Linked DNA regions of Homo sapiens. The protein of the gene in region 2 purifies or fractionates together with the protein of the main gene of each other region. This does not show direct contact. Each region holds a gene or a part of one and is shown on either strand. Other genes may lie near its edges.

Region 1 (3,822 bases), on a different chromosome or scaffold from region 2:
CACACTGTGGCTCACGCCTATAATCCCAGCTCTTTGGGAGGCTGAGGCAGGTAGACTGCTTGAAGCCAGGAGTTCAAGACCAGCCTGGCCAACATGGTGAAATACCATCTCTACAAAAAATACAAAAAGAAATTTAGCTGTGTGTGGTGGTGTGCGCCTACAGTCACAGCTACTTGGGAGGGTGAGGTGGGAGATCACTTGAGCCTGGGAGGTAGAGGCTGCAGTGAGCTGTGATATCACACCACTGCACTCCAGCCTGGGAGACACTGCGAGAACCTGTCACTAAAAAAAAAAAAAATCTAGAAATGCTGGATAAATTATAACTAATCTCTTTTAAACACATAAGTAACCTTAAAAGAAAAGGAAATTTCTTACTGAGGGGTAGGATGGAGAAAGGCACCTTTACTTTTTACTTTATCCACTTATTTTTATGTTATAATCAATGTGTATTACTTCTGAAACTAAAAAAAGAATGAAAGCACTCTGAAAAAAGCTGCTATGGATTTAATAATCAATGCCACCTCATGAGTAACTAAAGCAATGTAATCTTACAGTAACTTTTTGGGTATAGCAGCCACTTTTTTATCCAATTTAATTCAAAATTACTGACACCTCCTAAGTACAAGAGACTTAGTAGGTGCTGGCCTCTGGCTAATAGCAAAATGTGGTCCTTATCTTTTAAGGAGCTTAGAATATGTGAGGAAGAACAAGCAAGGAGACAAAAATATCTGTAATATAGGACAGAACATGAAACTCCTCATTCTCTGCACCAAAATTTGAGAACTAAATGTTTAAAATCCCAGTTTCCAGTTAGTATCCCATCAGAGCCCAAAACCAGCTAGTCAGACATTACAGTTGACCCTTGAACAACACTAGTTTGAACTACAAGGGTCCACTTATACAAGGATTTTTTTAACTAAACATGGATCAAAAATGCAGAATTCATGGGATCTGACACTCACATACATGAAGGGCAGACTTTTCATATAAGCAGCATTTCAGTATACCCTGAAGAGTGGGTGGGAGGTGGGTATTCTGGAACCAGTCTCCTATGTATACCATATACTGAGGAACGAGTGTATTTTAGACTTTCCATTACAGGTTATTTTGTTTTGAGTTCATCCACCCATAAAGCATTTTTTTTTTTTCCAGATGGAGTTTCACTCTTGTTGCCCAGGCTGGAGTGCAATGGCATGATCTTGGCTCACTGTAACCTCCGCCTCCTGGGTTCAAGCAATTCTCCTGTCTCAGCCTCCAGAGTAGCTGGGATTACAGGCATGCACCATCATGCCCAGATAATTTTGTATTTTTAGTAGAGATGGGGTTTCTCCATGTGGTCAGGCTGGTCTTGAACTCCCGACTTAAGGTGATCCGCCTGCCTCGGCCTCCCAAAGTGCTGGGATTACAGGTGTGAGCCACCACGCCCGGCCCCCATAAAGCATTTCTGACAATGACTGCACTTACTCACTAGTGGCAAAACTGTAGTTATACATACAGTTTTTTTGTTTTTTTTCCTGAGACAGAGTCACGCTCTGTCGCCCAGGCTGGAGTGCAGTGGCGGGATCTCACTCCAAGCTCACTCCAAGCTCACTCCAAGCTCCGCCTCCCGGGTTCACGCCATTCTCCTGCCTCAGCCTCCCGAGTAGCTGGGACTACAGGCACCCACCACCACGCCTGACTAATTTTTTGTATTTTTAGTAGAGACGGGGTTTCACCATGTTAGCCAGGATGATCTCAATCTCCTGACTTCGTGATCTGCCCACCTCGGCCTCCCAAAGTGCTGGGATTGCAGGCGTGAGCCACCGCGCCCAGCCACATACAGTTATTAGCACACAATTTCCATAGCCTTTGTGATTTCATCCCACAAATGAATCCTCAATTGTTTTCTTCCTTTGGTTTGTATATCTGCTAATACTGCCACATTGATTATATCAATACTACTCAGTCAAAAATAACTAAATCCTCCCCACAGTTCTATAATTGCTAATTTGAAAATTAAATATAAATACAGCTGTGATAGATTCAAGATTCTTCTCCATCTCCAATCAAGAACATCCTACAGGCAACAGTCAGACACTGGTGAAAAGGATTATGGCACAGAAAGATTTATTCTCATTTACTAAGAGCACAAATACAGCTGAAAAAAAGGAATCCTTCCTCTAAAAGTGACTAAACCATGAAATTTACAAACTTATGGCAGTTAGAATAAAAACCCCAAAATCAACACACATTCAATCTTTGGCAATCTAAAGGGGTTTTTAAAATACCAAAAACTTAGAAAAGTTCAAACATTCTGTTCATGCCAGTGTAGTCCAGCTTTGCCCATGAGAACACTGTTACAAGCTGTTGATGATTTCCAGTTCTAAAAAGGTTCCAGAGGCAGTCTTTTAGGTTGCAGAGCTGGTCAACATCACCTATTTCTCTTGAGGCAGTAAATTAGCTGTATAGCCCAGGAAAATTACTCTATCCAATCCAAGCAGTTAGAAAAAATTCAGAGTAATTGCATGGCCACAATACTGTTTATTGTTCAATCTTGCCCTTTATGAAACTGGACATGGCAACTGCTGACACATACAGGCAATAGCTCTGGTTTCAGACAAAGATAATAATAAATCTTTAAATATTATGTATCCGGCCGGGTGTGGTGGCTCATGCCTGTAATCCCAGCACTTTGGGAGGCCGAGGCGGGTGGATCACCTAAGGTCAGGAGTTCAAGACCAGCCTGACCAACATGGAGAAACCCTGTCTTTACTAAAAACACAAGAAAAAAAAAAAATTAGCCGGGTGTGGTGGCGCATCCCTGTAATCCCAGCTATTTGGAAGGCTGAGGTAGAGAATCACTTGAACCCGGGAGGCAGAGGTTGCGGTGAGCCAAGATCGTGCCACTGCAATCCAGCCTGGGCAACAAGAGCAAAACTCTCTCTCTCAAAAAAAAAAAAAAAAAAAAAAAAAAAATATATATATATATATATATAATGTACCAACTCATAGAGGGTTGCCAGACTGGGAAAATAATACTTACCTATGAGACACCAGTAAAAGCAAATACCATGAGGTTAGGATGTTGACTGTCTATAGCCTGGATGCCCTAAAACTGTATGAATACCTTCAAAGAAACTCACTGACATATTTCTGGTAGTACACTGAAGCATCACAAGCGATCAGACTTCCATCTCATCCACGACAACCTGATAATTACCACTGTATTCCAAAAGTCAGGAAAGAATCAGTGTTATTTCCTACCTTCAGGTTCTCTGGAGGCTTTCCTAAATGCTAACCCAGTCCAAGAAGTAAAAATGTCTAAATATCAGTAAAGGATTGCTCCAACTCCTGTTTTGATGTGCCTCTTTAAAACAAAACAAACAAAAAAAGTTTAAAAAGAAAGAAACAAAGGCCCAAATAAGAATAGCATATTAAGGAAAAAAAAAAAGATAAAACATAGAATTGAAAAGAAAAACCAGTAAGAATGCTATTTAGTAGGGGCAGTAAAGAGAAATGGTTGATTAGTCTGGCTCCAGAGCCCTGGAGCCAGCATGCCTAGCTTACTGCCTGTGTGAACTTGAGCAAGGTTTTTAACTCTGCCCTACTTTCCTCTTCTGTACAATGAGAATAATAAAAGTAATAATCTCAGAGTCAAAGAATAAATAAGTTAAATCACATAAAACAGCTAGAATTTGGCCACTTTTAACCAAATAGATAAAAGTCCAAAATTTTACTACTACTCTGTTGATGAGGCTGTTGGAAAACAGGCAGTCTCACAGAGTAATTAGTACTAAGCCTTAGGGAGGGCAATTTGGAAATCACACTTTTGAGAATTTATCC
Region 2 (3,822 bases):
CGGAGCTTGCAGTGAGCCAAGATCACGCCACTGCACTCCAGCCTGGGCGACAGAGCAAGATTCCATCTCAAAAAAAAAAGAAAAAGAAAAAAGAAAAGAAATTAATTGCTCATGGTTTTTTCATTTATTAGCTGAGAAATAAATATAAAACATTAGAATCTTAACCTGGCAAGGTATGCCATTGGTTGAAATAAGAAAACCACCATTGATTGAAACCACTCACAAGAGAATTTATTACTGACAAAATTGACAGATCTCTAAAATTTGACACGGTAAATTGAATCCAGTGAAATAATAACCACAGAAGAAAACTAACAGTAGTGGAAACTATACTCAGTAAAAATTGCTTTGACTTTTTTTAGAAATCAGTAGTGCTCGATATCATTCTAAAAAATTATACAGAAAATAAATTAATCCTGTTCAGGATAATTTGACTGAAGTAAACATTGAAGAACTAGAAACTGTTTAAATGAACTTTAAAACTAGTCAAATAATTTAATTGGCTAGATAGAACTTGTTACAGAAATATTTTCCTGGCAAAAAAATCATTGCGCTTTATAGAAAACTGGCCAAATAATTAAATCAGCTAGTTAACTTGTTACATTTGTTACAAAAATATTTTCTTGGCAAAAATTCCTCAGAATTAGTGTAATTTCGATGCAACAGTTTCTTTTTATTAACATAACCAAGATATTTTAACGTTCAAAATGAAAGTAAATACAATGAAATGGCAGTTTGCAGTCAGCCTGTTTCTCCTAGATCTTGTAAAATTGACTTAAAAGATTACATGGAGAGTGATCTCATTTGTTTTTAAAATACCATTTGTATTTGTACTTAAGGATATAAATAAGTGGATTGGAAAGGTACACAACAAATTAAACGCTCACTTTTGGAAAGCTGTCAACCAAGAAGGGTAGAACTGAAACAGTCAAAGGACTTTCTCTAGGTACTTGGATTTGTTTCAATTTTTAGCAGCCCTATAGGAAAGTATGTGTGTCCCTTCTGAAGATGGTATACGTCAGCTTCACGTTCCAGAGTAAAGAAATATTTACAGAGTAGTATGCCCCTCTCTCCTTCCTTCTTGAGGATTGATCTCATTGCTCGTTTGTCTTTCTCAGTTTGAAATTGTTCCTGAAGATGACCCCCAGAATGCCATTGTCAGCTCTTCTGCAGATGCTTGTCATGCAGAACTGCTCAGGACTATAAGCACTACTATGTAAGTTGACCAAAAGCTTGAAAACAGGCTAAAAGATCACTGTTGGTACAGTGAAACCTTTTCTCTTGCTTTTAATGGGTGGAGATACTTTATTTTATAGAAACCTATCCTGGATCCTCCTGACATTGTGCCAACTAGAGCCTCCACATTATCAAAGTCAAGAAAGCTTATCCTGTTTGTTCATACCACTATTCTGTTCTTAAATCCATCTTCATCTCCCGCTAAGCTCTCAAACTAAAATTATCCCTCTCCTGTTTAGGGGGAAACTAATGCCTAACCTGCTTCCAGCTGGAGCTGACTTTTTTGGATTTTCTCATCCAGCCATCCACAACCTGATCCAGAGCTGTCCAGGAGCTCGAAAATGCATCAAGTAAGTGTGATCAAATTCATTCCCTTGAGAAAAGCTCAGTGATCATCCGGCCAGGGACTGGCAGTTCCTACTTTGTTCACTGACCTTCTGTGTCCAAAGCCTGCCTGCTTCTCGACCAGTAGGGCTCAGTATTGGCCCCCTTAGCCCTCTGGACAGGTAAGCAAGAGCCAGGACTCCACTGTTCGCTGATTATTACTATTTTCTGTATGTACCATGACAGCAAAAGGGGTGGGAAATCTAGCAGACTAATTTGTCACTAAAGAGGCCTGCTTATTTCTTTTAGGTTTTTGTTAGCAAATATGTGTTTTAGATATATATGGGCGGAATATAAAGAAAAATTACCTGATCCCTTTAGTGATAGGAATGGGTATTTATGTCTAGCAGATAACTCTCAAGGGTGATTTCCCTTGATTCTGCAGTTACCAGTGGGTGAAATTTGATGTGTGCAAACCTGGAGATGGGCAGCTACCTGAGGGGCTGCCGGAGAATGATGCAGCTATGAGCTTTGAAGCCTTTCAGAGACAGATCTTTGATGAAGATCAGAATGATCCCCTTCTGCCAGGTATCTTTAACTTTACCTTTCTGGTTTGAAAATTGACTGTGTTTAGGCTACCTTCCCATCTTCACACATAGCCGAGTACCCTAAATATCTATGCATTGAGTGATAAAAGCTTTCATTGAATCAGCCTTGCGGAGTGCTGAGTTAGAGGGGGACCTGCGGCCTGCATAGCTTCCTAGATTACTCACAGATGTCATGGGGAGCACCTGCGATCATAGTAAGGCAGGGTACCCCAGAAACTAAGGTATCTCATTCTGTAACCTAAGCAAGACTGGAGCAGAACACCAGGGGAAAGTTTACTGTGCAGGGAATAACATTTCAAGTGAAGTCAGTGGGGTCAAGTCAAGGCCTTGGCCCTGCCTGTGTTCCATGAGTTCCTCCCACAAATGAGTGATCAAGGGTTCAGGCTTTGGGGTCATATAGGGAAAACTCTGGGTTAAAAAATGGAATTGAAATTCTCACTCTTTGCCTAATATACTATATAACCCTAGGCAAGTCACTTAATGTTTCAACCAGTTTTCATTGTAAAAGTATCTGTCCTATCTTAACAAAGGCAAAATTGAGCTGACAAATGCAAGGGTGTTAAGGAATTGATTGAAAGGACATGTATATGTCTGACCAAAACAGTCTGCCCAGACTCCCGAGCAGCAGTGGAACTTAAGGAATTGTTTTCTCCAGGATCCTTGGACCTCCCAGAGCTTCAGCCTGCAGCCTTTGTGTCTTCTTACCAGCCCATGTACCTGACACATGAACCCTTGGTAGATACTCACCTGCAGCACTTGAAGTCTCCATCACAGGGTAGCCCAATTCAGTCTTCAGATTGAACAAGAAGGGATCAGATGCCACATCGTTTTTGTCGTGATTAATTTAACTTAAACTAAAATTTTGGGTATATGAAAGAAGGCAGCAATTCAGAAGTAAAGAAGATACTAACGTATTTCATCATGGAAGGTCCTGTGGTGATGGTTTTCCCTGGGAAAACCTTCAGCTGCTTTATTTTTAGTAATAAATTTCTCTTGTCAATTCTGTTTACTTTCATCTTGTAATCGGGATGTAATCTTTTTTGCTTAGCTCTGCCTGAGGTAAAGTAAACTTCAGCCTCTTATAAACAAGAGTGATAGAGAGCTGCAGGCTGCTACAACAAATACCATAGACAGGTTGGTTTATAAATAACATGAATTTATTTCTCACAGTTCTGGATGCTGGGAAGTCCAAGTTCAAGGAGCGCAGATTCAATGTCTGGTGAGGGCCCACTTCCTAGTTCTTAGACAGCTGTCTTCCTGCAGTGTCCTCACGTGGTAGAAGAGGAAGGCAGCTCTCCGGGGTCCCTTTTATAAGATCACTAAGCCGGTTCATGAGAGGTCTGCTCTCATGACCTAATCACCTCCCAAAGGCCCCACCTCCCAATACCATCACATTAGGGGTTAGGATTTAACATGAATTTTGGGGACATATAAACATTAAGTCTGTAGTAGCAGCAGCTGACTAACGAGGGAGATAGGGAGATTCTGACAAACTTCTACTCTTGATTGTGATCCTAATTCAAGGAATATCAAGTCCCAGCCCCTGCAACCCAGGCTGCTGCTTAATTTTCATGTCAGTATCATCAAAATCCAATGTTCTGCTTAAACTCAAGATGGAAAGTCCAGTCCAAGGTACACTGTTCATCTTTTTCTT

What was found.
Region 1: the proteins of TBRG1 (region 2) and UBR3 purify together in Homo sapiens (affinity purification with mass spectrometry; one large-scale study listed by BioGRID and IntAct). This does not show direct contact.

The regions. Positions count from the first base shown.
Region 1 is NC_000002.12:169,830,261-169,834,082, reverse strand, and holds part of UBR3 (E3 ubiquitin-protein ligase UBR3), read right to left. Parts: intron 1-3,822. UniProt on the Homo sapiens protein: E3 ubiquitin-protein ligase which is a component of the N-end rule pathway. Does not bind to proteins bearing specific N-terminal residues that are destabilizing according to the N-end rule, leading to their ubiquitination and subsequent degradation.
Region 2 is NC_000011.10:124,629,270-124,633,091, forward strand, and holds part of TBRG1 (transforming growth factor beta regulator 1), read left to right. Parts: intron 1-1,118; coding exon 1,119-1,216; intron 1,217-1,475; coding exon 1,476-1,586; intron 1,587-2,005; coding exon 2,006-2,148; intron 2,149-2,823; coding exon 2,824-2,969; 3' UTR 2,970-3,822. UniProt on the Homo sapiens protein: Acts as a growth inhibitor. Can activate p53/TP53, causes G1 arrest and collaborates with CDKN2A to restrict proliferation, but does not require either protein to inhibit DNA synthesis. Redistributes CDKN2A into the nucleoplasm.